2 linked regions of the Homo sapiens genome follow. The protein of the gene in region 1 purifies or fractionates together with the protein of each later gene. This does not show direct contact. Each region holds a gene or a part of one and is shown in the gene's direction. Other genes may lie near its edges.

What was found. The genes of interacting proteins can lie anywhere in the genome.
Region 2: the proteins of ADPGK (region 1) and TOR1B purify together in Homo sapiens (affinity purification with mass spectrometry; 2 studies listed by BioGRID and IntAct, with this or other methods). This does not show direct contact.

What each region holds. Positions count from the first base shown.
Region 1 is NC_000015.10:72,756,259-72,759,758, reverse strand, and holds part of ADPGK (ADP-dependent glucokinase isoform 4 precursor), read left to right. Parts: intron 1-1,469; coding exon of another isoform or gene 1,470-1,694; intron 1,695-3,311; coding exon 3,312-3,500. UniProt on the Homo sapiens protein: Catalyzes the phosphorylation of D-glucose to D-glucose 6-phosphate using ADP as the phosphate donor. GDP and CDP can replace ADP, but with reduced efficiency.
Region 2 is NC_000009.12:129,801,762-129,805,983, forward strand, and holds the start of TOR1B (torsin-1B isoform 1 precursor), read left to right. Parts: upstream 1-1,422; 5' UTR 1,423-1,451; coding exon 1,452-1,650; intron 1,651-2,311; coding exon 2,312-2,577; exon of another isoform or gene 2,578-2,718; intron 2,719-4,222. UniProt on the Homo sapiens protein: May serve as a molecular chaperone assisting in the proper folding of secreted and/or membrane proteins. Plays a role in non-neural cells nuclear envelope and endoplasmic reticulum integrity. May have a redundant function with TOR1A in non-neural tissues.

The sequences.
Region 1 (3,500 bases):
CTGTGTATTTCCTGCTGTAATTTTCCCTCTGCTCAGAACTCAGACTCTTGAGTTTCTGATTCAACACATTGTTAATACACATTAAAGACTCAAGCATCTAAACAGACTAATTGGTACCTTAAAGCAGCACTTAATACTCTTCAGTGAACTACTTCCAAGTCAATTAAGAGAATCTTCTCTACTAGAGTAATTAACTTTAACATAAGATATGAACTATGTTATTTCTTGAGAATTATGCCTTTCTCCAGGTAGAAAAAAGAGTTGTAACATGTTCTGGTTCTCTTTCGGGTGCTTACTAGAATCAGTTGGGAATTAAAGAAGGATAGGGTCTGAAAATTAGGGACACAGCGTTGACGTAGGCAATTCATACTTAATGCTACACAAGTTTTTGAGTTTCTCAGCTTTAGTTTTCCCAAATGGGAAGTAAGAGTAATAGTTTTTACTGCCTGATCATTGTGGTAAGGATTAAGAGATTGGTTGGTGTGCGGAAACATTGTGAGCAGCTTGGATGAAAAGATGACCTGGCCGCACGTGGTGGCTCATGCCTGTAATCCCAGAACTTTGTGAGGCTGAAGCGGGTGGATCACAAGGTCAGGAGTTCAAGACCAGCCTGGCCAAGATGGTGAAACCCCGTCTCTACTAAAAATACAAAAATTAGCCAGGTGTGGAGGCGGGCGCCTATAATCCCAGCTACTCAGTAGGCTGAGGCAGAGAATTGCTTGAGCCTGGGAGGCGGAGGTTGCAGTGAACTGAGATTGCACCACTGCACTCCAGTCTGGGCAACAGAGCGAGACTCCGTCTCAAAAAATAATAATAATAAATAAATAAAAGAATGACCTGACTGTGGACTGGAAGGGTCTGGAATTGCTAAAGATGAGCCCCTGAGGTATTGCTGCCATGAGTTCCAGATTCGTGTCAGTTTTTTTGGCACCCACAGCAGGAACTGGGGACCTTTGTGATTCCTGGTTTGTCATTTTTCCTGGTGACTACAGAGTGGAGAGTCTTACGTCTTCAGCAAGACTTTGATGTTGTATTGGACAGCTGTGCCTCGTATGTAGTTAAGGAGACAGCACAGTTCACCGCACAAAGAGAGTGTCTCCATCCTTGGGTTTATAAGCTTCACACTTCAGTTTTTCTTTCCTATGCCTCTTCTGCATACAAAGCAGTGGACTTCCATTAAACTTTGTGAGGTGACATTTTCCTAGGTCCAAGGAGGGAGCCTAGTCTAGTGGCAGTAGCCCTGGGCTCAGCTCTCTCAACAGAAATCCATTCCCAGCTTGTCTCTGACCTCAATAGGGAAATTCCAAGGGATTTGTCCATTTTTTTTTCCACATTCTCTCTTACCAGATCTCCCCAGAGAAGCCCATTGTCAGGCTTGGGCTGGGAATCCAGTGAGTCACTACGCAGAGGTTTTGCTGACTTACTGGCTGAGGGCAGGATGATACATTGAGAAGAGATTGCTTACAGGAATGAATACAACACTTTGTGAGGAAAGAGGGGCGCTAACTACCATTACAGGCAGAATTAGATCCATTTGCATCTGCCCCCTGCATGGCCTCTCCAACGGGGCCATGAATATGCTGGAGGTGTTTGTGTCTAGCCTGGAGGAGTTTCAGCCAGACCTGGTGGTCCTTTCTGGATTGCACATGATGGAGGGACAAAGCAAGGAGCTCCAGAGGAAGAGACTCTTGGAGGTAATGGCACTGTTACAGAATTTCACAGATCTCAGCTGGTGGTTTTCTTCAGGTTCCAGCCTCTCTTGGCATCTGCTGCCTTGTTTCCTGTGGAAACAGCAAGCAGCTCTGCACGGTTCTTCTCATCCTTGCCTTGCAGAAGAGCCTGTTTATTTTTGCCTCTGTCACTTCCTGAAGAAATCAGTGTATTTTCAATACAGTGTGGCTCCTTTCTCCTAGGTTCAGTTAGGTCGTGTTTCCTAGCAGTGTCACTATTCAAGGGTTGAGTCCACGTCTTGCTCTCTGGAGAATGTCAATGTAATGTATTTTTCCCATCGTACAGAGTCTTTGTTGATTTGCAAAATGTTGGATTTGGGGTTCATACCCATATTTTTTGTTGTCATGGGCATTTAGGTCATCAGTCTGTTCTCTTATTTGCTTGTTCTTTTGTTAATTCATTCCCATGGCTATATGCCAGACACAGCATGATGCAGAAGGAATACGACAGAGGATGACACAGGCCCTGCCCTCAGCTCACAGTTTACTGCCAGAGATAGACACTTGGAAAAAGTAATTGCAGGCCGGGCATGGTGGCTCACGCCTGTAATCCCAGCACTTTGGGAGGCTAAGGCAGGCAGATCACCTGAGGTCAGGAGTTTAAGACCAGCCTGGCCAACATGGTGAAACTCCGTCTCTACTGAAAATACAAAAATTAGCCAGGCGTGGTGGCGGGTACCTGTAATCCCAGCTACTCGGGAGGCTGAGGCAGGAGAATCGCTTGAACCTGGGAGGCAGAGGTTGCAGTGAGCTGAGGTCGCGCCATTGCGCTCCAACCTGGGCAACAGAGTGAAACTCCATCTCAGAAGAAAAAAAAAAAAAAAAAAGGAAAAAAGAAAAAGGAATTGCAAAATCATGTGCCTCAGTCCTGTATTAGGGTACAGTGGTGGCCCCAGAAAGGAGGTAATCAAGTCTGCTTAGGGGTGGTAGGATTAGGAAAGGCTTCATGTTTAGGGAGGAACTAGCACTTGAACTTGGGTCTTTAAACAGTCATTCCTCTAAAGCAACTCACATAGAAGCAACTGGAGCAGCTAGATAGTCTGATCCTTTGGATCAGGTGCCCAGAAACCACTGATGGGCAGCAGGGAAGAGGAGATGCAGTGAGCTTGGCTGTTGGGAAGAAATTCAGCCTGCTTAAGTTCCAACTGAATGAAAGATGCTCAGGGCAATGCTGTGAGGAAGAATGTGCTTTAAACAATGACAGCCTATACTGTCTGCAGGGCGTGCGTGCTGCACACTGTATGCTGGTATTTGGAAGTCATGCTGCCATTCTGTACTGTCTCTCCTGTGTTTGAGAGCTCAAGTAGGGCTCTCCTGGGACTCAGGGGGAGCTAATTACCTTGAAAAAGGCATATAGCACCCATACTATGTTTCTGTTTCTTGGCTGGGTTTGGGTTTAGGTTTTTGGTTTGTTTCTTGCAGTGCCATGCTGACCTTAGGCCATTGTTGCTGGGGTCTCCTCAGCCAGAAACCAGCCTGCTTGGAGCCAAGGCTCCTGTGAGGTGCCTGAAAGTGCCCCCACAGCTAGGAGACCTAAAGCCTCTTCCTTTTCTTCCCATTGTGTTGACTGGGTTTTTCCAGGGGAGGAGTGGGGCCAGTTAAAAGCTCCCCATGCCAACCGATTCATCTTCTCTCACGACCTCTCCAACGGGGCCATGAATATGCTGGAGGTGTTTGTGTCTAGCCTGGAGGAGTTTCAGCCAGACCTGGTGGTCCTCTCTGGATTGCACATGATGGAGGGACAAAGCAAGGAGCTCCAGAGGAAGAGAC
Region 2 (4,222 bases), on another chromosome or scaffold:
CTCAGTCTAGGGCGCAGCACGGAGAGTTCGCAACTGTTTCAGGAAGAAGGCAGGCGGGTGGGCCGACCCAAGAAACGCACATTATACCTCCGGCGAAGTGAAGGGAGGGATAACAAAGCAAAGCTTGAGGGCTCCGAGAAGCTCTGAAGAAAACAAATCCAGCCATAAGCCCACTCCTGTAACCCCAGGCTTTGGAAGACGGAGGCAGGTAGATCGCTTGAGGTCAGGAGTTCGAGACCAGCTTGGGCCACATGGCGAAACCCCGTCTCTACTAAAAACACAAAAGTTGGCTGGGCGTGTTGGCGGGCACCTATAATCCCAGCTACTCCAGCAGCTGAGATGGGAGAATCGCTTGAACCTGGGAGGAAGAGTTTGCAGCGAGCCGAGATCCTGCCACTGCGCTCCAGCCGGGGCGACAGAGCCAGACCCTGTCCCCAATATACATATCAGATAAGAAAAAAATATAAGAAAGTTTAAAAAAATTTTTTTTGGCTTTTTTTTGTTTTTTTTGAGACGGAGTCTCGCTCTGTCGTCCAGGCTGGAGTGCAGTGGCACGATCTCGGCTCACTGCAAGCTCCGCCTCCCAGGTTCACGCCATTCTCCTGCCTCAGCCTCCCGAGTAGCTGGGACTACAGGCGCCCGCCACCATGCCCGGCTGATTTTTTCTATTTTTCGTAGTGATGGGATTTCACTGTGTTAGCCAGGATGGTCTTGATCTCCTGACCTCGTGATCCGCCTGCCTCGGCCTCCCAAAGTGCTGGGATTACAGGCGTGAGCCGCCGCGCCCGGCCAGCCTTTTTTTTTTTTTTTGAGACAGTTTCGCTCTTGTCGCCCAGGCTGGAGTGCAGTGGCACGATCTCGGCTAACTGCAACCTCCGCCTCCTGGGTTCAAGAGATTCTCCTGCCTCAACCTCCCGAGTAGCTGGGATTACAGGCGCCCGCCACCACACCCATCTAATTTTTTGTATTTTTAGTAGAGACGGGGTTTCGCCACGTTGAGCAGGCTGGTCTCGAACTCCTGACATCAGGTGATCCGCCCGCTTCAGCTTCCCAAAGTGCTGGGATTACAGGCGTGAGCCACGGCGCCCGGCCAAAAAAAAAAAATTTTTTTTTTTTTTTTTAGATATTTTTTCACTCTTGTTGCCCAGGCTGGAGTGCAATGGCGTGATCTCGGCTCGGCCTCCCAAAGTCCTGGGATTACAGGCGTGAGCCACCGCGCCCGGCCCGAAAAAATTTTTTTAAAAGAAAAGGGAAACAAAACAGTCTCCTACACCTTCGGACCACTCCCAAGAACGATGGCACCGCCCTCCTCTCCGCCCCTCACCAACATGGCCGCCCCCAAGGGAGTGGGCGGGTCTGCGGGGCGGAAGTGACGCACGAGAGGAAGTCCGTCCTGCCGCTTGGCCGCGGGGCGCCTGGCTCAGTGGCTTCTGCGGGCTTCGAGGAGCGGGATGTTGCGGGCTGGGTGGCTCCGGGGCGCGGCGGCGCTGGCGCTGCTGCTGGCGGCCCGAGTGGTGGCGGCGTTCGAGCCCATCACCGTGGGCCTAGCCATCGGGGCCGCGTCGGCCATCACCGGCTACCTGTCCTACAATGACATCTACTGCCGCTTCGCCGAGTGCTGCCGCGAGGAGCGGCCGCTCAACGCTTCGGGTACGGCGCGCGCGCGAGCTGTGGGTCGGCGCTGCGGGGGGCGCGGGGGCGCGGGGGCGCGGAGGGACGGCCTCGTGGGCGCCTGGCACGGACCGGGCCCGTGGCATCTAGACGGCGGTGGTCCCAGCTGGGGTGGGCGGGGAGCGGATGGGGCGGCCCCGGAACCGTTCGCGGGAACGCAGAAGCGGTGCCTTCGCAAACAGTCTCCAGATCGTGGGGCTGCCCCAGCGCCTTTCTAAAGCTCCCGTTCCTTGGGATCACAGGTGGAAGAAACGGAAAGTAGGCGGGCGGCCCTTCTGCGCCCTGCCAACCCTATTAAGTAGTTTTCAGACGTGCTGCGTCGCCCAGAAAGCCCACATTTGGCCCCTGGTTTTCCTGCAGGTCAGCAAGGGTGGCTGGGATTAGCAAGCGCTCAGTCAAGCGATGGTTCATCTCTGAATGAATGAACATTTAGCTTCCTTATCAGACCCCGAAGCGTTAAGGACCTCCACATAATCTTGAAAGTGGCATCGTTTGACTGCCTCGGCCCTAGGGTGTGGCAGACACCCTGCTGTGTCCCTGGATAATCTGTGCTTCTTGCTTTGGCCAGCTAAGAAAGTGCTGCGTTGCTGATGCATTTTTAAGGTCTGTTTCTCTCTTTGTTCTGGGGCTGTTCTTGCAGCTCTCAAGCTGGATTTGGAGGAGAAGCTGTTTGGACAGCATCTAGCCACGGAAGTGATTTTCAAGGCGCTGACTGGCTTCAGGAACAACAAAAATCCCAAGAAACCACTGACCCTTTCCTTACACGGCTGGGCTGGCACAGGCAAGAATTTTGTCAGTCAAATTGTGGCTGAAAATCTTCACCCAAAAGGTCTGAAGAGTAACTTTGTCCACCTGTTTGTATCGACTCTGCACTTCCCTCATGAGCAGAAGATAAAACTGTACCAGGCAAGAGAACCCGCTATTATCTCGTCTGCAGGCCAGTCGGACTGGTCCGGGTGACCTGCTCACTAACTCTGGCCTCTGCTTCTCTTTCCTTTGTGTTGCTGTAGCCCCCGGCTCCACTGAGTTAAGGCACACTTAGTCCAGGTAGTTACAAAGCTCTCCTACAACATTTCTCTTACTTGGTTCCAAAACAGTCCAGTGGGGTAGGGGATGTTATTTCCATTAAAAGATGGGGAGCCAAGGGCCTGGCGCCGTGGCTCACGCCTGTAATCCCAGCATTTTGGGGAAGCCGAGGCGGGCGGATCATTTGAGGCCAGGAGTTTGAGACCAGCCTGGCCAACATGGTGAAACCCCATCTCTACCTAAAAGTACCAAAATTACCTGAGCACGGTGGCACGCACCTGTAATCCCAGCTACTTGGGAGGCTGAGGCAGGAGAATCGCTTGAACCTGGGTGGCAGAGGTTGCAGTGAGCTGAGATCGCGCCACCGTACTCGGTCTCAAAAAAAAAAAAAAAAAAAAGGCCTGGCACAGTGGCTCACGCCTGTAATCCCAGCACTTTCGGAGGCCGAGGGGGGCGGATCACGAGGTCAGGAGATGGAGACCATCCTGGCTAACACGGTGAGACCCCGTCTCTACTAAAAATACAAAAAATTAGCCGGGGATGGTGGCGGGCACCTGTTGTCCCAGCTACTCGGGAGGCTGAGGCAGGAGAATGGCCTGAACCCGGGAGGCGGAGCTTGCACTGAGCCGAGATCGCGCCACTGCACTCCAGCCTGGGCGACACAGTGAGACTCTGTCTCAGAAAAAAAAAAAAAAAAGAGAGATGTAGTCAGGGCCAGGTGCAGTGGCTCACGCCTGTAATCCCAGCACTTTGGGATCCGCCAAGGCGGGCGGATCACCTGAGGTCGGGAGTTCGAGACCAGCCTGACCAACATGGAGAAACCCCGTCTCTACTGAAAATACAAAATTAGCCGGGCGTGATGGCGTGCGCCTGTAATTCAAGCTACTTGGGAGGCTGAGGTTGCAGTCAGCTGAGAATGGGCCACTGCACCCCAGCCTGGGCAACAGAATGAGACTCTGTCTCAAAAAAAAAGAAAAAAAAAAAAGATGGAGCCTGGAGCCCAGAGGCAAGGTGACTTACTCCTACAATCTTTGTAGCAGAACAGGACCTTTGTAGCAGAACCAAAACCTCCCAACTCCCAGTTGACATGGTAGCCACCTTCTCTGGTGAGTGAAGGGATTCCACATCCCCAGCAGTGCAGTTGGTGAGAAGGGGCAGTCAGTCTTCAAGGATTTGCTCCGGTGTGGCTTCATTCAATGCTGCCCACCTCTGGTGCAGCCTCAGCTTTGCCTCTGCTCTTTGCAATGTAGCCTAGAGGTCTTTTTTCTCCTTAACAGGTTTTATTCCCTTTGTTCCTCCCATCCTTCATGTCCTTGGCATTGCTTTCTTCAAAGGAAGCCTCAAAGAACTGAACCTTGAGACTGTTTCTCCTTTTGAGATATTGTTTCCACATTCATTTTATATTAAGTTGTCTAGGAGGGTTAGTTCTCATTTAAATGAATGTTGTCCTTGTCAAGGTTAACATTCCCACTGGCAACATAGCAAGACTCCATCTCTACAAAAAATAAAAAAATTAGCCAGGTGT